Linked DNA regions of Homo sapiens. The protein of the gene in region 1 purifies or fractionates together with the protein of each later gene. This does not show direct contact. Each region holds a gene or a part of one and is shown on either strand. Other genes may lie near its edges.

Evidence for each region. Proteins that work in one complex are often made in the same cells at the same time.
Region 2: the proteins of RPP14 (region 1) and POP1 purify together in Homo sapiens (co-immunoprecipitation; 2 studies listed by BioGRID and IntAct, with this or other methods). This does not show direct contact.
Region 3: the proteins of RPP14 (region 1) and RMP24 purify together in Homo sapiens (affinity purification with mass spectrometry; 2 studies listed by BioGRID and IntAct, with this or other methods). This does not show direct contact.

What each region holds. Positions count from the first base shown.
Region 1 is NC_000003.12:58,302,222-58,310,908, reverse strand, and holds the start of RPP14 (ribonuclease P protein subunit p14), read right to left. Parts: upstream 4,665-8,687; 5' UTR 4,492-4,664; intron 4,390-4,491; exon of another isoform or gene 4,258-4,389; intron 601-4,257; 5' UTR 580-600; coding exon 503-579; intron 403-502; coding exon 318-402; intron 1-317. UniProt on the Homo sapiens protein: Component of ribonuclease P, a ribonucleoprotein complex that generates mature tRNA molecules by cleaving their 5'-ends.
Region 2 is NC_000008.11:98,111,744-98,120,757, reverse strand, and holds the start of POP1 (ribonucleases P/MRP protein subunit POP1), read right to left. Parts: upstream 3,466-9,014; 5' UTR 3,368-3,465; intron 2,919-3,367; exon of another isoform or gene 2,893-2,918; intron 1-2,892. Other genes in the region: RIDA (2-iminobutanoate/2-iminopropanoate deaminase), read left to right, coding at 3,662-3,726. UniProt on the Homo sapiens protein: Component of ribonuclease P, a ribonucleoprotein complex that generates mature tRNA molecules by cleaving their 5'-ends. Also a component of the MRP ribonuclease complex, which cleaves pre-rRNA sequences.
Region 3 is NC_000018.10:35,974,480-35,980,243, reverse strand, and holds the end of RMP24 (UPF0711 protein C18orf21), read right to left. Parts: intron 5,349-5,764; coding exon 5,149-5,348; intron 2,835-5,148; coding exon 2,644-2,834; intron 1,410-2,643; coding exon 1,238-1,409; 3' UTR 966-1,237; downstream 1-965.

The DNA of each region.
Region 1 (8,687 bases):
TGCCAGGCTGGAGTGCAGTGGCGTTATCTCGGCTCACTGCAACCTCTGCCTCCCGGGTTCAAGCAATTATCCTGCCTCAGCCTCCCGAGTAGCTGGGATTACAGGTGCCTGCCACCACACCCAGCTTATCTTTGCAGTTTTAGTACAGATGGGGTTTCACCATGTTGGCCAGGATGGTCTCGATCTCTTGACCTCATGATCTGCCCACCTCGGCCTCCAAAGTGCTGGGATTACAGGCGTGAGCTACCGCGCCCGGCCTCTTTCTGTATTTCTTACAAAGATCTTTGGAATGTTCAATCTACCAAGTGATTCCATACCTCCCCAAACAGGTCCTTCACAGCCGAAATAAGCAGCTGTTTGAACTGTGCAGCATTCAGTCCAACTCCACAATCTTGAAATTCTCTAAAAAAAGTGAAAAAAAAAAAAGTCATATTAAATTTCATTCTATTCAGATTCATGTTAGAAAAGTAATCTAAAATAGAACTTAGGAAACTAAACTTACAGGCAGACTTTCATGTAGTGGTACTCGGAAGGGTTTTTGTAAACTACTCTTTCATATGTGGCAGCAGGGGCAGGCATCTTTTCCAGTGCTGATCACACCTACAGTAAGTCAAGAGGGCTAGAAATGACCAATGCACATGCTATTTTTCAGAGTTTTGATGAGAATTTGGCCTATTTGGGTTTTTTTTGTTTGTTTGTTTTAAGGCAGGGTCTCACCCTGTCACCTAGGCTGAAGTGCAGTGGTACAATCAGAGTTCACTGCAGCCTCCACCTCTGGCTCTCGAGGCTCAGGTGATCCTCCTGCCTCAGACTCCTGAGTAGCTGGGAGTATAGGCACGTGCCACCACATCCAGCAGATTTTTGTATTTTTTGTAGAGACAGGGTTTCACCATGTTGCCCAGGCTGGTTTCAAACTCCTGGGCTCAAGCAATTTGCCCAACTCAGCCTCCCAAAGTGCTGGGATTACAAGTGTGAGCCACCAGGCCCGGCCTTCCTGTTATTATTATTTTTTTTTTGGAGAAGGAGTCTTGCTCTGTCGCCCAGGCTGGAGTGCAGTGGCACAATCTTGGCTCACTGCAACCTCTGCCTCGCGGATTCAAGCAATTCTCCTGCCTCAGCCTCCCGAGTAGCTGGGATTATAGGAATGTGCTACCACGCCCGGCTACCTTTTTTGTATTTTTAGTAGAGACAGGGTTTCACCATATTGGTCAGGCTGGTCTCGAACTCCTGACCTCGTGATACGCCTGCCTCGGCCTCCCAGAGTGCCGGTATTACAGGTGTGAGCCACTGTGCCTGGCCTCCTGTTTGGTTTTTAAGACTTCTGAGCACAGTAACTCATCTAATTCTGATCAAACTAAGGTTACCCATACGAATACAAAATAAGTTTCTATATTCTATAAATGTCAAATCACTGTACTCTTACTTAAAACATAACAACATAATTTTGGCTAACAATTTTCCTTATGAGCACCCAGCTCTTTGCTAAACATTTCACATGCCTTAGCTTGTCTTCAAAATGCTCCTGAGGTAAGAGGTATTATTATTCCCATTTTCGAGAAGATGACACAGAGGTTTAGTAAACGTAGGTAACATCTGCCCAAGGGTGCCCAGAGATTCCAACCACTCTGAGCCCACTCAAGACCAGTTACGATGCCTCTTTATCCAAAGAAAAAGAAAAGACATAAAGGAGTAAAATCTAAGATTTGAAGGTCCTCTTCTTGTTTACTCTCAGTCAACACAGAACACAAAGAGAAGAATGAGGGATGGTCGTTCTGCCGTCTCCTCCCATCCTGTGTCTGCCTGCTCTCAGTCCAAAAGCCAGGTCTGTGCAAGACTATCTGTGAACAACTGAGCTTAAACAGCACAGGGGTTGAGAAGAGGGATTCCTGGAAGGGGCACTCAATGCAGCTTCTAAAAGGTCTGAACTTTCAAGAACGTAGAACATGCTCATCTCTCTGTAGACAGTTCCTTTCCTTGGCTCCATGCCAACCTTGCTCTCCCTCTGGATAGGTCCTATTCATCCTTCAACTTTCAGTTTAAATACCACCTCTTCATGAAGGTCTTCTCTGACACCCTTCTCTAAGTTAAGCCCCCATGTTATGCAATCTCTTAACACTGTCTATTTGTTTAATATATGGATCCCCCACTACAGGGAACAGGAAACTGAGGCCCAATCAAGGAAAGGGACTTATCCAAGGTCACAGAGCTATGGACCAGCATTTCAAAACCACTCTGGGTTAGACCCAGTTCCAACCACTCCCAGATGATGACCTCTGGAGAAAAGAAGTCAGGGTCAAGGAGCTACATCTACCAATCCATTCAACAAACATTAATACTTTGGGGCCTGGCGTGGTGCTCATGCCTGTAATCTCAACAGTTTGGGAGGCCAGGAGTTTGAGACCAGCCTGGGAAACATAGTGAGACCCTGTCACTAAAAAAAAAAACAAAAAAACTTAAATTAACCAGGCATGGTAGTGTGTGCCTGTAGTCCCAGCTACTCCAGGGGCTGAGGTGGGAGGATAGCTTGAGTCTGGGAGGTTAAGGATACAGTGCACTGTGATTGTACCACTGCACTCCAGCCTGGGTGACAGAGCATGACCCTGTCTCCAAAACAAACAAACAAAAAATACTGTAATACTATGACACAAAGTAGGTATTCAAATGAGAGAAAAGTGATAGTGGTATAGGCCTATATATTCAAAAGAATCCTTGGTTTCAGGACAGCGGAAATAGTTACCTGATGCTTCTTTCCCAGTCACTAGAGTCTCCCCTAACTAGAAGGGCAGGGAGAACAAGAAACCTCATCTGTTTCTTTCATTGCTTGGCACATAAATGTTTTTTAGTGTTACTGCCTTGATGGAGCTGGCTGCCTAAAATAGGGGAGTGAAATTAGACCCAGGGCTTAGATGCCAGTAAAACGAAGACTTACACAACATTCACGAGATGGACAGTGGTGATGGCTGCACAGCGTTGTGAATGTACTCAATGCTACTTACGATAAATTTTATGTCACGTATTTTTTGCAATTAAAAAAAAAAAAAAAGACTTACAAATGACAGCACTGCCCTCTGCAGGCTGTTCTGACATTAAAGGAGAGGATACCTGGGAAATTATTTTGTACAGACTGGTATTAAATATATTCACCAGGCTCTCCACAGATGTGGGCTCACGAAGTTACTGTCATCGTCATCTTTAAAGTCAGTCTTGTTGTTTGTTTTGAGATGGAGTCTCACTCTGTCGCCCAGGCTGGAGTGCTTTGGGTCGAAGCAATTCTCGCTCCTCAGTCTCCTGAGTAGCTGGGATTACAGGCGTACGTCATCACGCCCAGCTAACTTTTGTATTTTTAGTACAAATGGGGTTTCGCCATGTTGGCCCAGGCTGGTCTCGAACTCCTGGCGTCAAGTGATCCGCCGACCTCGGCCCCCTCAAAGTGCTGGGATTACAGGCATGAGCCACCGCGCCCGGCCTAGAGTCAGCCTTTTTTAGTGGCTGCGCAGGGATGCTCCTAATCTGACCTATTAGTAATAAATCTGATTCTCCCTACTCCCCCGCTTCTCCATCCCTACGGCGGCCAGTGAGTCTATTAACATCTACTCAAGCTACATCATTCCTCTGCTCAAAATCTTGCTATGGTTCCCGTTTTATCCAGAGTAAGGCCAAAGTCCTTAGAGCAGCCTGCAAGGCTCTGCCTCACCTGCAGGACTGCTCCCTCTACACCTCTGACTTCATGTCCTGCCATTCTCCCTCCGCTCAATCCCCGCCACCACACAGGCCTAGCCTAGCTCTTTCTCACGCGCCAGTCTCGCTCCCACCGCTGGGCCTCGGCTCTAGCTTTTCCCCATGCTGGGAAAGATCTTCCTCCAGGCAGCCACCGGACTCACACCCTTGCCCCCTTCCTGGCTTAGCTCAAATCTCAATCGGGTTGGCCCAGTGCCCTTCTCGGCTAACACCGCACCCCACCCCCATGCCCCGTCCCTGCTTTCTTCTTCGTAGCATTTGCCTTTTTCTATGACAATTATGTAACTCGTTTATCTTTATCTGTACTTCCCCTCCCCACCCCAACAAAAGTCCACTCCAAGAATCTTGCTATCTTGTTCACTGCTGTTTCCCAAGGCCCTAAAACACTGGGTCGTGCACAGTGGGCGTGCGACGTACAATTTTTGGACTAAATCAATCACTTTAAAAAGCTCAATATCCTTACTGCTGAGCACTTGGGTGGCTTTCAATATTTTTCAACAACCACTATTTAGCGCTCACCTCGCGCCGGGCGCATGGAGAGCGCTCAGGACACGGTCCCGAAGTCTCGCCCGGGCCTCTCGGCCACGTTCTGCGGCCGAGACCCTACGCGGCGCCGTACAGAGGCCCTCAGCGCCCGGGGTCGGAGAGGACAAGCTACCCAAGGCGCACCGCCCGCCCCGCGCATGCGCCCGGGTCGCGGCCAACTGAGACGGCTCCCAGACAACCGCCGCTCTTTGGAAGGCTTCCACCTACCCACTCTTCGTCGGACTAGCCTGACGCCTGACCAGACTCCTATTCGCCGCAAGGACCCGCCAAGGCTTGGGGCTCCCCGGCAGCAGCCACAGCTGGGCCCGAGAAACTCCTGGTGTCTTTACGTTTGGCTTCTCCTCGTCCCGCCCCACGAAGCGTGACGCCCAGGCGGATATGACGTCACCACGCGGCGTCGTCCTAAGGACCCAGGCGCGAATCCTGATCCGGAGCTGAGAGCGGCCGAGCTCAGCGCCCTCTGGTGTCCACTCCGGGAAAGCCGTGTGTGCAATTTGCTTGGGGTGCGGTTTAGGGCGGGTTTTTTCCGCCTTGGACGGTGCTTCATAGTTATCCATTTCTTCATGCATTCATTCATTCATTCAACAATTTTTTCGTTGTTTTTTTGAGACAGTTTCACTCTGTCGCCCAGGCTGGAGTGCACTGGCGCGATCTGGCTTACTGCTACCTCCGCCTCCAGGGCTCAAGCGATTCTCCCACCTCAGCCTCCTGAGTAGCTAGGACTACAGGTATGCTCCACCATGCCTGGCTAATTTTTGTATTTTTAGTAGAGACGGGGTTTCACCATGTTGGCCAGGCTGGTCTCGAACTCCTCGCCTCAAGTGATCTGCCCACCTTGGCCTCCCAAAGTGCTGGGATTACAGACGTGAGCAACTGCGCCCGAGTCATTCTACACATTTTTTTCATTATATTATAATTTATTTATTGAGATGGAGTCTCGCTCTGTCGCCCAGGCTGGAGTGCAGTGGCGCCATCTTGGCTCACTGCACCCTCCGCCTCCCTTCAAGTGATTCTTCTGCCTCAGCCTCCCAAGTAGCTGGGACTACAGGCATGCACCACCATGCCCAGCTAATTTTTGTATTTTTAGTCGAGACGAGGTTTCACCATGTTGGCCAGCATGGTCTCAATCTCTTGACCTCGTGATCTGTCCACCTCGGCCTCCCAAAGTGTTGGGATTACAGGCGTGAGCCACCGCGCCTGGCCTAATTTTTGTATTTTTAGTAGAGACAGGGTTTCACTATGTTAGCCAAGCAGGTCTCAAACTCCTGACTTCAGGCAATCCACCCACCTCGCCTCCCAAAGTGTTGGGATTACAGACGTGAGCCACCGCGCCCAGCCTACAAAATTATATCTAGCATCTCCTCTCCTCAAGATCTCCTATGTCAAGCACTCCCCAAAGATAGGACCCACTCTCAGTGTCCCTTGTGACTCCCAGCACATAGTAGGTGTTCTATCTAGGCCGTCCTGGAAAGACCCACAAAGTAAAGACTTACTTTGTGCTAGGCACTATGCAAAATATTTTACATATGTCATCTCATGGAACCCTCACACAATCCTGAGATGGCTATTACTATGATCATCACCATTTTAGAGGTAGAAACTGAGGCACAGGCCAGGCGCAGTGGCTCATGCCTGTAATTCCAGCACTTTGGGAGGCTGAGGCGGGCAGATCACTTGAGGCCAGGAATTCGAGACCAGCCTGGCCAGCATGGTGAGACCCCCATCTCTACTGAAAATACAAAAATTAGCTGGGCACGGTGGTGCACACCTGTAATCCCAGTTACTCGGGAGGCTGAAGCAGGAGAATTGCTTGAACCTGGGAGGTAGAGGTTGCAGTAAGCCGAGATCACACCACTGCACTCTAGCCTGGCAACAGGAAAAGAAACTGAGGCACAGAGAGGCTAAGTTATTTGCTCAAGATCACAGTTATAAGCAGTGGCATGGGCTGTCTGATTCTAGCCAGTGCTCTCCATACTGCACTGTATTACCACCAATTGAGGGGCTGCAGTGGGAAGGGAAACTTTAGTGTAACCCCCATGAGGATGGGGCCTTGTCTGTGTTTCTCACCACTGCATCCCAGTTCCTGGTACCCAATGGTGACCCAACATCTATTTACTGAAGGCATTTGTTCATAAATGGATGTGCTGGTTTTGCTTGGGTTGGGGGGCAAAGGGTTGCCTTGCACAGGACAGTTGAGTCAGCGGGGATCTCCTTCCTCAATTATTTTCTCAAAATCCCACTGTGTTGTTTCCAGAAGCTTCAGTCCTCAACCTTGGCCATGCTCTCCAGTTCTGTGGTTCCTACTTTCTTCTTCCTTCAGAGGAGACAGGGCTTGTTCCAGATGTGGGAAGAGGTGGAGAAAGCAAACACAGACCCCACAGACCCAAGTATTATCTTTCTCAAAAAAGCTTGATTTCAGAAGCTGCCAGAACTTGCTTCAAATGCATCCTCTGCCACTTACCTACCTCCCTCATCTGTCACATGGAGAGATTATTAGCATCTACCTCACAGAGTTGAGGGAAAAAGAGTTGATGGTATAAAGTGTCTGGCACCCCAGGAAACCCTCAGTAATGGGAGAGGGTTCCTGTAAGCCAGCTGCCTGGCAAATGTATCCTGCCAGGTGGCCCAGGAAAACCAGAGCAATTCCTGTATTTTGAACTTCAAGGAACAATAGATAATTTTCACCCTGCTGCAACAAACCCTGAAAATGAAGTGTCTTCCCAGTTGCCTGAATTCTCTCATGCTGTCTTATTAATTCAGAGCGGAGGATAAAAGAGATGCCTTTGAATGATAAAGACAAAAAACTTGTTTTTTGGCTGGGTGTTGTGGCTCAGGCCTGTAATCCAGCACTTTAGGAGGCCGAGGTGGGCAGAACACCTGAGGTCAGGAGTTCAAGACCAGCCTGGCCAACATGGCGAAACCCTGTCTCTACTAAAAATACAAAAATTAGCTGGGTGTGATGGTGCGCACCTGTAATCCCAGCTACTCGGGAGGCTGAGGCAGGAGAATTGCTTGAACCCAGGAGGCAGAGGTTGCAGTAAGCTGAGATCACGCCACTGCACTCTAGCCGAGATGACAGAGCGAGACTCTGCCAACAAACAAAACAAAACAAAAAACAAAAAAAAACTTTTGTTTTTCAACTAAATTTTATATTAAAAAATCGTTTTTGGACAGTGTCTCACTGTCACCCAGACTGTAGTACAATAATGTGATCATGGGTCACTGTAGCCTCAACCTCCCAGGCTCAACCGATCCTCCCACCCCAGCCTCCCAAGTAGCTGGGACTACAGGTGCATGCCACCATGGCCAGCTAATTTTTAATTTTTTTGTAGAAACAGGGTCTCACCATGTTGCTCAGGCTGGTCTTGAACTCCTAGGCTCAAGCGATCCTTCTGCGTTGGCCTCCCAAAATGCTGGGATTACAGGTGTGAGGCACTGCACCATGCCTAAATTTTATCTTCTGAATAGGTACTGTAGGCTTACAGCATACATTTCAAATGACATAAAGGGATAGATATTAAAAAGTGAGTCTCCCTTCCACCTCTTCCCCTGTCAGCCTCTCCCCTCTCCAGGAGCAACAACTAGTATGAGTTTCTTAAGTGTCCCCTGAAAAATATGATATGGGGGCTTTTACCTCTTGACGATGTATCTAAAATTGCTCCAAATCAAAACACACAAGGCTGCCTCAGTCTTTTTTTCTTTTTTTTTTTGGAGACAGGGTCTTACTCTGTGGTCCAGGCTGGAGTACAGTGGTGCAAACATAGGTCACTGCAGCCTCAAACTCCTGGGCTCAAGTGATCCTCCTGCCTCAGCCTCCAGAGGAGCTGGGACTACAGGCATGTGTCACCACACCTGGCTAATTTTTTTGATTTTTATTTTTAGAGAGGGGATCTTGCTATGTTGCCCAGGTTAGCTGCCTCAGTCTTTATGAAAGTTACCCTGTACTGCATTGGGTGGAGCCAGTTAGTTCTTAAGAGGACCATTTCAGGTACCCTCTGTGTTTCAGAGCAAAGTTGTTGGGGTCGGTCTCTATTTTATGTCCCTGAAAGGTACGGCAGCCAAGAATGAGTTAAGTCCACACTTCCCCTCTGCTGTGTGGCTCCCCTCCCTGCCTTACTTATTGGTGCCAAATGGATTTTTCTAAAGCTGAGGAGCTTTCTCAACTTGGGGAAGAAAAGGCAAGAGAGAAGGGTCCAAGTGAGATTCCAGTCCCCCTGTTCTCCATTGATTTAATGGAAAACACCCCCTATGTCAGCAGATTGTGGAGATAGGACAAAGGAAGTGAAAATGATCAGAAGTTAAAACCTATGGAACTGTAGCCATTGTTTCTGTTTCGAGAATAAGATCACATAGTTTAGGGAGATTTGCCAAGTACCAGCTAACTTGCTCACATTATTCCATCA
Region 2 (9,014 bases), on another chromosome or scaffold:
GGAGAATGGCGTGAACCCGGTAGGCGGAGCTTCCAGTGAGCCGAGATCGCGCCACTGCACTCCAGCCTGGGCGACGGAGCAAGACTCCGTCTCAAGAAAAAAAAAAAAAAATACAAAAATGAGCCACGTGTGATGGCATGCGCTTGTAATCCCAGCTGCTCGGGAGGCTGAGGCACGAGAATCCTTTGAACCCAGGAGGCGGAGATTGTGGTGAGCCGAGATCACGCCACTGCACTCCAGCCTGGGCGATAGAGTGAGACTCTGTCTCAAAATAAAAAAATGAACAAACATATACATACTGTACATGGTTTTGGCTTTGCAAAATGCATATACACAACTCACTTAGCATGGGGCTTTATGCTAACTAAATGCTCAGTTTATGGTAGCTATTATTCTTAAATAATAAATGAAATAGCAGGGATTGATGCCATTTCACTGTCTCACTCCACTAATTTCAACTAAATGAAAGACAGCTATATCTACATGCAAAAACATTTTTCAAATTAAACAGTATGAAGGAAGTAAATGGAGTTCTGCAGAACTGGCTGGCTAGTGAAGCACATGATTCAGATCGGTCTGCATTAAAAGCCATTCCAAATATTTTACAAAACAACTTAGTTAACCTACTGTTACCTGCTTGAATCAGAACTCACCAGCAAGGCTAGACAAGAACACCATAGAAACTCTAGCTCCCCTCAGTATTAGAATGGTCCAAGAAAAGGTTGGTGCTGGAGGATTAGGATAACCTTGGGAACATCCCTGAGCTTTGGGTCCAGACTAAAATATGAGGAAATCAAACTGGCAGTGGTCCTCTAACAGCAGAAGGGAATGAATATAGGATGCATCTTTATGAAGTCTGAGGATTTAATTTAAAAGTTTCCAGAGGCCTGGTGTGGTGGTTCACATCTATAATCCCAGCACTTTGGGAGGCCAAGGCGGGAGGATTGCTTGAGCTCAGGAGAAACCAACCTGAGCAACATAGTGAGAACTCATCCCTACAAAGAAATCAAAAAATAAGCTAGGCATAGTTATGAGCTTGTGGTCCCACCTACTCGGGAGGCTGAAGTGGGAAGATCGCTTGAGACAGGGAGGTCAAGGCTGCAGTGAGTGAGCCTTGATCACATTACTGCACTCCAGCCTGGGTGACAGAGCAAGACCCTGTCTCAAAAAAAAAAGTTTCCAGAAGGAATCTTAACTCTTACCTTCACCTTCAAGTCAGTTTTGTCAAACTTTAATAAGCACTAAATATGTGCTGCCTTTATAAAAATATTTTCGCCAAATCTTCAAATAAAATGGATACGTTATGTTTTCTGATACAGCTTAGTATCCTCTGGCCAGACACAACCTTTGGTGTTAGTTAGTTCCCAGTTTGAGAACCTGGGAACTAACTAGATGATGTCTATTTTCTTCCAGATCTAAAAAGTTGGTGATTCAGACTTGATATAAAATCTGTCTTAAGAATAAAGGTACCTTGTTTCACAAGAAATATTTTACACAAGTTGAATCATTTGTAATGCTCCAAAATAGCTTCTTATTTAAAAACTTAAATGGTGAATTATTTTGTAAATAAAAATATGTCTTAATTATCTAGTTTAATCAGATTTAATAAACTTTTGGGCACCTACTATGTGCCCAATAGTTTCAGGCTGTGTATAATTCCAAAGTAGAATAAGAATTTTGTCATCTTAGGCAGCATTGAGAACTTGATGTGGCAGGCACTATTCTACATGACTTATTCATTTAATTCTCACAACTCTGTGGTCACTAGTATTATTCTCATCTTATAAATGAAGAAATCGAAGCACAGAGATTTTATATACCAGTCCAAGGCTACTAAGCTTGTGATTGTGCTGAGATTCAAACCAGGCAGTCTGACTCTATCCACTATTCTTTTTTTTTTTTCCACCCCTTCCCTCTCCAATCCACTATTCTTGAAACACATAACAATTAGAAAATAGGATCTCATATAATAAAATACTAAATTATGCGGTACAGCACAATAGGAAACAGGACAAGGGAAAGAAAAAAAATGAGGCCGGGCATAATGGTTACACCTGTAATCCCTGCACTTTGGGAGGCTGAGGTGGGAGAATTGCTTGAGCCCAAGAGTTGGAGACCAGCCTGGCCAATATGAAGAAGCCCCGTCTCCACAGAAAATACAAAAATTAGCCGGGCGTGCTGGTGTGCACTTGTAATCCCAACTACTTGAGATGCTCAGGCTGGAGGATTGCTTCAGCCCAGGAGGTCAAGGTTTCAGTGAGCCAAGATCATGCCACTGTACTCCAGCCAGGGTGACAGAGTGAGATCCTGTCTTGAAAGAAAGAAAACAAAGAAAAAGAAAAGGAAAGGAAGGAAAGAAGAAAAAGAAAAAAATGTGAATTGGTAGGAAAAGTCAAAGAGAAAATAGAATTTCAGTTAGCTGGAATTTGCACAGATAAGGAAGAAAGAGTATTCAGGAATCCACAGTGTGAATACAGGAGGACTCTAGTGGGAAAAGGGAGTAGATGACAATGAAACTTGAATAGGCAAGGGGAGGCCAGACTGAAAGGTCTTTTATTCCAGGCCCCAAACCAATGAAAAAGATCAGAAGGTTCCTGAGCCGGAAGTAGGAAGGCCAAAACCTTAGCAGTATGTAGGACAAAATGAGAGGGAATAAAGCAGATTTTCTTGTATTATCTTTAGGAAGCAGGGAAGGCAGAGATTTTATTATTATTTTTTTTAACTGTTGCATTCCTCCTAGCATCTAGCAGAGTGCCTTACACAAAGTAGGGACTCATATATCTATGAGTGCCCGCATAAATGAAGAAACGAAGCGTACTTACAATGCAAATATTAACAGGATAAGAAATATTTAGCCAAGTACCACCCCTTCTGACACAGCAGAATACTTACAAGGGATCTGGGCCATTCCAGATCACCATCTTTCTTTCTGAAATGATATCCCAATCACTAGGGCTCTGTTCAGACAGTGACCTTGTAAAGCCCGAGGAGCACCCTAGAGAAGGGAACACAGGAGGAGCAGGAAAGGGAACACGGGAGGACCAACGCCCAGATCTCAGCGTGGTCGCCAGAATGACCCATATTAGTCATTTGGGGTTGCAGAAGAGGGGATGCAAGCCCATTCCCAGGACGGCCTCCACCCGGCGGGGCAATGAAGGGAAATGACTGACGTAGGGGGCTCCAGCGCAGGGGCCGAAGGAGATGCGACACCAGGGAGAGGGGCCCCGGGCACAGGCAGCAAGGAAAGAGGTCAGCGGAGTCTGAGAGAGAAACGATGAAGAGGGGAGACGGGCGCCGGGAGGGGGGCCGCCGCATACAGTTCCCCCGACACTCGCATCCTGGAAGGCACCAGCCCCTCACGACCAACCTGCCAGACGCTGTGAGGAATCCCCGGGTCAGAATGACAAGCCTCCGCGACAGTACCCACCGAGCCAAAGCTCCTGGAGAGCGCGCTGGAGAGCGCATGCGCCAGACCGGGCGCTTCCTCCACGTGGCCTGGAGCGTCGCCGAAACTACAGTTCCCAGAATGCCGCACGAGCCCGCCCCCAGCGGGAGCTGTGGGGCAGAGGCGCTGCTGTGGTTGGTCAGTCCAGTAAGAAGCCAGCAGGGCTGGTGCTGGGGCTTCTTCTCCTGAAGGGGCTGCAAGAGGGAAGGCTTAGCCATGTCGTCCTTGATCAGAAGGGTGATCAGCACCGCGAAAGCCCCAGGGGCCATTGGACCCTACAGGTAACGTGGCTGGTGGAAGCTGTGTCGGACCCAGGGCGTGCGGGTTCGGGGATTCGGGGTTGGGGCCACTCCGGGCCGGAGCCCCAGCTAACACGCAAGGAAATTGAGCCTGGAAAGTAAGCAACGCGCCCGAAGACCCACAGAGAGTTGGGAGCCACGATGGGACCAGGAACCTGCACTCCATGGGACTTTGCTCGTTCTGGGGCTGCCTCGCTGCGGAGCACAGCCTGCCAGAAAGCTCTCCCCAGTTAGAAGCCTTCAGACCCTGTGTTTTGTTTTGGGGGAGGGGGTCGTTTTTGTTTTCTTGGTAACAGCTTTATTGAGATATAATTCACGTACCGTAAGATTCACCCCCTTTAACATGTACAATTCAGTGGTTTTGACCATACTCACAGAGTTGTGCAGCCATCACCACTTTCTTCAGAACATTTTCATCACCCCAAAAATAAATCCCATCCCCATTAGCATTCACTCCCCATTCTCCTCTCCCCCGGCCCCTGACAATCTACTTGCATCTTCATGGATTTGCTTGTTGTGGACATTTCCTATAAATTGAATCATAAAACATGCAGTCCTTTATGACCAACTTCTTTCATTAGCTTCATACTTGGTCTGCCTCTCTCCCAACTGAAAAGAGCCCCATCAACAGCTCCCTCCTTTAAACCTACTGCTGTGAGAAAAGGCACTGAGATGTGGCAGAACAGGAATTATTATAGAAAACTTGGAAATAAATAAAATGCAGTAGAAGTGAGAGGGCAAGTGGGGTAGGGAGTAAAGGAGAAAAAAGACAAATTGATTTTAACTTGGGGTGGAAGAGGAAAAAGAAGATTTAGGAAGGTTCCTTGTGAGAGGTAGTCCTTTGGTTTTGAAGGTTGGTTTTGTCATTTATAGTAGTGTTGTAAAGTTTGATTTTTAAATTAATTTATTAAGGATTTCAACAGGAAGTCATTGAGTGAAGGGCATGGAGGTAGAAGTCAGGTAGAGGGAATGGCTTGAGTGAGGGCATGGAGGTAGAAGAATGCATGGTATAAAGATTTTGGGGAGAAAGTTTTCATAATTCAAGTGCTACTTCTGTCTTTTTTGTTTGTTTGTTTGCCAAATCTGTATATCACTTATAATTTACTTAACCTATTTCTTTGAGATGGCTCACTTCATTTTATTTAACAAGTTAATTGAAAAAGGAAACTTTACAACAGTACACTAAATAGAAAACAATTCAATAGAAAGTAATAGTAAAAAATAAACTCAATTAAAAAAAGGTATTATTAAATTTTAGCTAGATATTGCAGTTGGCTCAAAACCTGAGGCCTGCTCTCTCTTTGTTAAGAGTGATGTTTCTTTAGCCGGGTACTGTGGTTCACGCCTGTAATCCCAGCACTGTGGGAGGCCGAGGTAAGAGGATTGCTTGAGGTCAGGAGTTCAAGACCAGCCTGGGCAACATAGTGAGACCCCCATCTCTATTTAAAAAAAAAAAAAAGTTTAATTAAAAACTTTCAAGTGATGTTTTAATTTGTTTTCTAAAGATGATTTTTTTTCTCCTTAATGTAATCAAACGGGGTAGAGTCATCATTGCTAACATTTACTGATGCTTACTCAGCAGCATTGGGCACTATCCCTTTTTTTTTTTTTTTTTTTTTTTTTTTGGAGGCAGAGTCTCACTCTGTTGCCCAGGCTAGAGTGCAGTGGTGCAATCTCAGCTCACTGCAACCTCCACCCCACAGATTCAAGTGATTCTCATGTCTCAGCCTCCCAAGTAGCTGGGATTACAGGCAGGTGCCACCACACCCGGCTAATTTTTGTATTTTTAGTAGAGACAGGGTTTCACTGTGTTGGTCAGGCTGGTATTGAACTCCTGACCTAAAGCGATCCACCTACCTCGGCTTCCCAAAGTACTCGGATTACAGGTGTCAGCCACCATGCCTGGCCAGCACCAGGCACTGTTCTAAGTTATTTATGTGCATGGTTATATTATAGTCCCTATTTTTCAGATGAAGAAACTGATGTGTGCAAAATTAAATAATTTGCCAAAAGTTACACCACTAAAAAGTGATGTAACAAAATTTGAATTTAGGAAATGGGTACTAGAGCCTAGTCTTAATCATTTACTTTGTTGTCCCTGGTGTAGATTGAAAAAAAAAATTGGAAAAGGAATCATTTTCTTACTATGTAAGACTGTGTATAAGTCTTACTGTGTATGACTGACTCCTTTGAGAAATACTGATTAAGAGTTGGACTTTGGATTTGAATTTTTGTTTTGCCTCTTTTTAATTATATGATCTTGCAGAGTGACTTAACCTCTCTTAGTTTGCTTCTTTGTCTTCTCAATGGGCATAAATAATACCATTTGATAAGATTATTGTGGGAATTAAATAAAAGTGACCAACAAAAATTAGATTTTGGCCAGGCACAGTGGTTCACACCTGTAATCCCAGCACTTTGGGAGGCCGAGGCAGGTGGATCACAAGCTCAGGAGTTCAAGACCAGCCTGGCCAAGATGGTGAAACCCCGTCTCTACTAAAAATACCAAAAAAAAAAAAAAATTAGCTGGGTATAGTGGCGTATGCCTGTAATCTCAGCTACTCGGGAGGCTGAGGCAGTGAATTGCTTGAACCTGGAAGGCAGAGGTCGCGGTGAGCCAAGATCGCACCACTGCACTCCAGCCTGGGCTACAGAGCGAGACTCTGTCTCAAAAAAAAAAAAAAAAGATTTTAGCAGGGTACAGGTTGTGGTGGTTTCCAATACTAAATGGAAGAATATAAACTTTATTTTGTATATAATAAGGAACAATTAAATGTGGTTTTTTTCTTGTGGTTGTTGTGGTTGTGTGTTTGTATGTGTGTATATTGAGACAGTGTTTCGCTGTGTCACCCAGGCTGGAGCCGGGATCACAGCTTATTGTCGCCTCAACCTCCCGGGCTCAAGCCATCCTCCCACCTCAGCTTCCCAAGTAGCTGGGGCTACAGGCTCAGGCCACCATGCCCAGATAATTTTTGTATTTTTTATAGAGCTGGGGTTTTACCATGTTGCCCAGGCTAAATGTTTTTAAGCAGGGTGGAACATGATCAGATCTTTTAAAAAGAATTCTGATAGTAATTCTGATAGAAATTTGGAGGTAAAGAAAGTGAGAATAGTTAGGGGATATTATAAGTAAAAATTTGTGATTTTTTTTCTCCTTCTGCCCTAATGTCTTTCTCTCAATCACACAGTGGTAGCATTTAGAAAAACATCTTTACCTCCAAACAAGAGGGACACAACCAAATCAAAGTGATTATTAGAGACACTTTGTCCTGGAGCCTGCTAAAGAGCATACCCCTTCCTTGACCTATTTAGAGATACTCTGTGGACTTTGTTCAGGAAAGAAAGCATAACAGTAATGTTCCTGGTTGACTTGAAGGTAGGTGGGAGTCAACTGTCTTTATAAAGCTGAAAGCTAAAAAGAGGGGAATCATCATATGAATGTGCCAGTATGACAAGAAAAAAAGCCACCAGCCAGCTTCATGGTGTGGAGACTTCCAGGACATTGTGCCTCTTGTGCACTAGGTGACTAGAAATGGTGCTTATTTTCAATAGTTAATGTTTAAGAAAAAAAACAGACTGCAACTAACTACTTATGTTAATTGGACATGTTTTAGGAACCTTTTGGGAACAAGAGTTTTTGTGCGTGGAGTGTGTAGTGAGTACACTTTTTGAAAATCCTGGGTCCTCTCCAGGAAGAATTCAAATGTGTTGAACTTTCAGTCCCTGGCATTGGGATGGATGGGGTGTTGTCACTAATTAGCCAATCAGCTCAGCACATTTCAGGAATACTTCCAGACAGAACCTTGAAAGATTTCAACATTGCATTGCTTTGCATTGCGCATTTTGCACACCGTCCTCATAATTATAAATTTTTGAAGCAGTAGCCCGTGTGGTATAGACTATGATGTGAGAATTATTAGAATGCTTTTGAAAGTGTGATTACCCTTTAACCTGGTAGTAGAACAGTGCACTTTTAAATTTTCTGAAGTCCAACCACTTGTCTTTGGATAGTAGGATTCTTATGCTCAGAAAGTGTCAACTAGCCAATTATTCTTATGAACAAACCTCTTTAGATCTGTAAGAGATAACTCACATAGCTCAGATGGTCTCAGCTCCAGTGCTTGCTTTTTATATTTTGAAAATAAAAGAGTTTCTTTTTACTATCATGAAGTTTCTGATAAATAATAATGCATATGGTCTTAAAGTGTGTTTCAGATATGGGGAAAGCTGAAGGCACTTTGCACAGGACCTAGGGCAGACGGCCTAATTCTACACAGGACAGTTAATAAAAAACAGTGTTACTGATGGTATTATTTAACCCGAGAAAAGATTACAAATTAACAAACTCAGTAGTTATCTATTTGTGGGCCAGTATGAAAGCCAGATAGTTGAGAAGACTTTCTAGACTTTCTGAATCATGTTATCAAGTTTAAACATACCTCCTTAGCTCTCTCCAAAGCATTTGCTGTAAGTCAACAGGTCCTGCTAAAAAGAGATTCACTGACAACCAAAATTGTTTATGCTACTAAGTGGTTAAAGAGCAAAACATCAGCAAGTAGTTATAGTGTGCCTACTGTATGCAAGGAATCACCTACACCCTACACAGCTACAGAGACATGGTAAGACATTACCCTGACCTCAAGGAGTTTAGAGTCTAAGATACCTTGGGAGACAGGATAATAACAGGATGAGTTACAACACGAGGCAGGATCCTGTACATAGTATAAGGAAGATACAACCAAAGCACTCCTGGGATCCAGGGGAAAGAAAAGCTTAGTTACTTAGAGAAAGTGTGTGTGTGTGTGTGTGTGTGTGTGTTTAGTATAGTTTTATTTATGATAACAAAATATCAGAAGCAATGGTGACTCATTAAATAAAGTACATCTATATTGTAAAACATATGTAGCTGTTAAAAAAAATGAGGAAGCACTCTACATATACTTATGGAAAGATCTTCATGATATTCTGTTGAGTGAAAAAAACAAAGTGTACAAGAATGTTTAATATACCATATTTTATGTAAAAGAAGAGAGAAAATATATATTTGTTTTGGTTATCTGTTCATTAAAAAAACTGGATGAATACATAAAGAAGAACAATGGTTCTGGGCTGGGAACTGAGCAAATAGGGAACAAGAATGGAAGAAAGACTTTTCACTGCAATTCTTTGTGTATTTTCTGGATTTTTGAACCATATGAACTCCTATTCAAAAATAAATTATAAAGGGAAAAAAAAGATGTGGTCAAGAAGACCAGGAAAACTTCATGAAA
Region 3 (5,764 bases), on another chromosome or scaffold:
CCCAGGAGTTCAAGGCTACAGTGATCTATAATCATGCTATAGCACTCCAGCCCAGATGACAGAGCAAGACTCTGTCTCTTAAAAAAAAAAAAAAAAAAAAAAAAAAGGCCAAAAATCCTCTTTCAGCTATTTTGAAATATACATTAACTAGAGTCATCATGCTGTACAAGAGATCATAGAACTTATTCCTCTTAATTGAAATTTCCCCTCCCCCAACCACAGCCTCCAGTAATCACTATTATATCCTCTACTTCTATGAGCTCTACTTTTTTAGATCCCATGTAAATAATACAGTATTTGTCTCTCTGTGTCTGGCTTATTTCACTTAGCATAATGTCCGCTAGGTTCATCCATGTTATCATAACTGACAGAATTTCTTGCTTTTTAAAGGCTGAATAGTATTCCATTGTGTATATACACATTTACAAAAATCCATCCTTTGACAAGCATTTCTGTTGTTTTCATATCTTGGTTATTGTGAATAATCCTACAATGAAACACTGTAGGGCAGACATCTCTTTGACATACTGATTTCAATTCCTTTGGATATATATGCAGATATGGGATCATATGGTAATTCTACCTTTAGTTTTTTGAGGAACCTCCATACTGTTTTCCAAAGTTGCTGTACTAATTTATAGTATCACCAACAGTATGTTTCCTTTTCTAAGAAAGAAAATTTTAGTTTCCTATTGAGTGATCTATAATCAGGAATGTTCCAGATATTTACTTTTGCAATCAAAATAGGAATAAGGTTCAGGTTTTACTAAGATAGTTATGCAGATAATTGTGAGAAAATAAGGACCCACTTGATCCTATTCCTGAATTATCAACAATGCTATAGACACATGGAAGAAACCCTTGAGTGAATAGACCCTCTCATAAAGATCTCAATTTCCTTTTGAAAGACAATAACATAAATAAAAACTGCTGACTAAAGGAAGAAAAAACAGTAATGCCACTACTCAATGTATATATCTATCTTTATATACATACACATATATATCTATAGATATGTATCTACAAGGAACTTTCATATATTTTTTGATCCTCACAGCTGTCCTATGAGGTAGGCAGGTTTCAGGTATTCACACTAATGAGGTATTTTCCCCATAAACACTGAAGGATGCCAAGAAAAGTTTGCATTCAGATCTAGTTTCCATGTATTCAAAAAATGAATAAGAGTTTAAAAAGTTGTTTTACCAACTTTAGTTTCAGAATTGACATCAGGCATTTCTTATTTTAAAAGTCCACCCTTCAGAGAAGATAAGAAATTTCTGAAGTCCACCTTTGGAATCTTTTGGGATTCATTCTGACTAAGTAACATTTTTAGTTGAGAGAAGTGTTTCTTTGTTTTGCTGGTGTTCTTTGAGGAGCAAGTAGATACTGACTGTCCAGATGTAGGTGTTCTGAAAAGAAACAAAACCACACTTAGTTATACCAACAAATGACAATCATTTTCTACTCTTTTGTATTATGGCCATATACATGCACTGGCTATCCTCGGTGTATTATCATTTGACAAATCCCTGTTCAGTTAGATTTCCTCAGGAATTTCTGACAGAGAAAAGGGCAAGAACAAATGTTTAGGGCAAGAAAGTGTATTATGAATGGTTCAGTATTTTTTTTTTTGGAGACGGAGTCTCGCTCTGTCGCCCAGGCTGGAGTGCAGTGGCGCCATCTCAGCTCACTGCAACCTCTGCCTCCCAGGTTCAAGCAGTTCTCCCGCCTCAGCCTCCCAAATAGCTGGGACTACAGGCGCACGCCGCTACGCCTGGCTAATCTTTTGTATTTTAGTAGAGATGGGATTTCACCGTGTTGCACAGGCTGGTCTTGAACTCCTGAGCCGCCCACCTCAGCCTCCCAAAGTGCTGGGATTACAGGTGTGAGCCACCATGCCCGGCCGTGAATGGTTCAGTTTTGTTGGCACATAGGATGATTTAAGGCAAAGAAAGACAGGCAGACAGACTGGTGCCAGATAGGGCTGGAAAGCCATGCTAGAGCATTTATCCATATGCTACACAGTGATGCTTCTAATCAGAGCTATGCTCCAGAAAGATGATCACACTAAAAGAGTTTGATCCTAGAAGCAGGGAGACCCATGAGGAAAATCACTGCAGTAGTCCTGACAAATGGTGCATAAGGACCTGAACCAGAATATAGCAGCACTATGGAGAAAAAGGAGCAAAAAGATGAAAACAGGGAAGTAGGATATATAGAAATCGGTGACAAGGACCAAGGGAATAGGGATTTTTGAATGTACCTGTCATTTTAGGTCAAAATGTCCAGAAAGGTGTGTTCATTCACAGAATAAGGAACTCAGGAGGATGGACAGGTTTGAGTGGTTAGCTGTGGGGCAATGATGAACTAAGTTTTGAACATGTAGGGGACTGAAGTGGTTATATTTAGCAGGCAGCTGGAAATAGGCACAGGAGATGTTGGAAGTAGAGTAACATACCTAGAAGTCAAATGCATTGAAATGAGCATTGAAGATATGGGAGTATGTGACATTAGAAAAGGGTATGGAGGAAAAATGGCCAAGTCCTGAAATGCATGGCATATTTAGGGAGTATATATTAAACACAGGAAATTAGAAGAAAACACTTAACACTGGCAATTCAAAAACTTCATGGATTAAGATACCTGAAAACCGATGCTGGGCTCTTGCCTTTCGAGCCAGACATGTCATGATTTGGGTTTGCAGTCCTTCTCTCTGGTGTCTTCAGGCTGAGTTTACTTGTAGGAGTGGCAGGATTGCTCTTCAATGTTGACACAAAGCTTCTACTTTTACCATGATGTTTCACTGTTCTGTTGCATGTTTTACAAGTGATCAACTACCATAAAAATAAGAAATATCAGTCCCGTCATTTATCTTATAATTTAACCCCATAAACCACAGGTTCATTGAATTCTTAAATGTCAGGGACTACACCAGATACTATAGGGGTAAGTAAAATAGAGGCTGTCCTTGGGGAACTTGCAATCTAGTAGCGAGAATCAGACAAGACATTTTTTTTTTTTTGAGACGGAGTCTTGCTCTGTCCCCAGGCTGGAGTGCAGTGGCGTGATCTCAGCTCACTGCAACCTCTGCCTCCTGGGTTCAAGTGATCCTCCTGCCTCAGCCTCCCATGTAGCTGAGACCAGGCGCCTTCCACTGTGCCTGGCTAATTCTGTATTTTTAGTAGGCAGGGTTTCGCCATGTTGGCCAGCCTGGTCTTGAACTCCTGACCTCAGGCGATCCACCCGCCTCGGCCTCCCAAAATGCTGGGATTACAGGCTTGAGTCACTGTGCCCAGCCGACAAATTTTAAATGAGAAAATGTTCAATAAAAATGAATGGCTAAACATTTGTATTTAATTTAAAATAGGTTTTCAAAGATAATGAACTCTACTTTTTAAATATAAAACCATGTTTGGTGGGAATTTGGGAAGAGATGGGAGATAATACTCTTTAACATCTGGAGGAATGTTCTTTGTAACAGCAGTAAGCATTTAATATTTTTTTGCAGATGAACTTCAAGCCTCTTCCCAAAAACAACATGGCACAGTATCACTGGAAATTTAAGTAGCCCCTTCAAATCCTTAGCAATTTTGTAAACATAGGTCTAAAGTAACTTATACAACCAAATGAGTTGTTATACTCTCACACCTCTCCACTCCCATCATTAGCTCTAGAGGTTGTCTTTCTTTTCAAGATTCATTTCTCAAGAAATGGTCCATTTTCTAGCTAATTTCCTTTCTTCTACATATCTAATTGACTGTGCACAGGACTCAGCCCATGCCTCGGCAAATTAATACAAACTAGTTTAAGTGAGAAGTAGTTTGATGTTCATGAGCAGATGAAAATGCCAATGGAAGATCTGCATCTATCAAAGGTCTATGTTGCTTTACACTTTTTGGAAGGAGGCTGTATACAGGTTAAAATAAATCAGCCGGGCGTGGTGGTGGGCACCTGTAGTCCCAGCTACTCAGGAGGCTGAGGCAGGAGAATGGCGTGAACCCAGGAGGTGGGGCTTGCAGTGAACCGAGATCACGCCACTACACTCCAGCCTGGGCGACAGAGGGAGACTCCGTCTCAAAAAAAAAAAAAAAAAAAAAAAAAAAAATCAGAAAAACAAATACCTCTAGCACCTTTCTAGCTGACTTCTGATTAAAATACATTAGAATGTAAGCTTCATGAGGGCAAAACACTGCAAGATAGTGAGGCAGCATTTGCTGTCTTCCCATTTAAGAACATTTTCCAAATATGTGGCAGTAATGATTTTTGAAAAATACAATTCTCCAAGAACTAAGAAACCGAATTCCATACTCACTTCAATATTCTATCTCTTCTTTCTTTCCCTTTAACCATTCAATTTTATGACAAAGCAAAATGCACCTACCTGACCAACACTGGTAAACTCCTAAATATGACAATTTTCAATCCAAGTAATTGCTAATTATAGTCTTAGGCCAGACATAAGCTGTCATAATGTCCAGTGCCCGGCACAGTGATAGACAATAAGCAGGCACTTGAACAGTTGATAAATGTTAACATAAAATATGCAGGGATATAAAGTGTATTTGCTACTGGCCTCCATATAGTAAACCGTACGTAATCTGATTTTGGTTGTTTTATTCCATCTTATATCCCCAATATTAAATGTTGCTTGGCATATGATAGACCCTCAATAAAATGTTGAAAGAACAAAAGATGCATTCACCTTTGTTGGGCATACCTGTAAATCCACTCTGACATGGAGTGGGAGGACAGCTGAAGAAGTGACATGATACCTACATACATAACATAGTACTATCTGAAGCAAAGGAGCATTAACTGAAAAAATAATGTAGTGGTAACTGCAATTTAGGTGGAGCCATAACGGTCAGTTCAAGAAATCCGCACATTTGTGAAAAATAATGCTCAACAATGGGATCTCAAAACAATTGAGAGCTCACCATGTTTGGTTTAGGTAATCATGAAAAATAAAAGTAAGCTGTCCTTATAATGAAACACTAATCATTAGAGAAGTGTTTATGTATATATTTTGATAATCCAAATATACTACTATAAATCTCTGAGTTATACTGAGGCTGATTCTTAAACTGATTTTAAGTGAAAGAAAAGAAAATTCTAGTTTACTCATACATACTGGAACTGAAATCTTACCAATACACTTTTGGAGTCTTTGAACTTTTTCACCATTTTTGCTTCTTTAAAACTGAGTGTATAGTTTCTCGCTTCTCGATTAAGAAGTTTCTGTATTTTGGGTGTCAACCTGGCTTTGGGTTTGAGACGCACTCGAGAGTTATCCAGAACCAACAGCTGGAAACAGTATGGACACGTTTCTTCAAAAGTGCTCTTATCATCTAAAATTATACAAATGAAACTCACAATTCAGCAAATCAGAATATTTTGTTACCTCAAACTGTCAACATTTATAAAAAGTATATTGAAATTTAATATAAGCAGATACACATTAAGTAAACTCAAAATATGAAAATTTACAAAAAGATAAATTGGCAGTAATTTACCTTGCAAAATACTACAATTCCATCCATTCACTCCTTTCAGCAACAGATAGGCAAATCTCCAACCTATGCTAGCAAATCCTGTAGGCTTTAAAATATATCCTAAATCTAGCCACTTCTCATTACTTGCTACTAAGTTTTAAAAGGCTGTTATGTTTCACCAATTTTACCAATGCATTTACCACAAAATAACAAATTGCACTGCGATTTTGTTTCTTTTTTTAAATAATTAGCACAATGAATAGTATCTACTG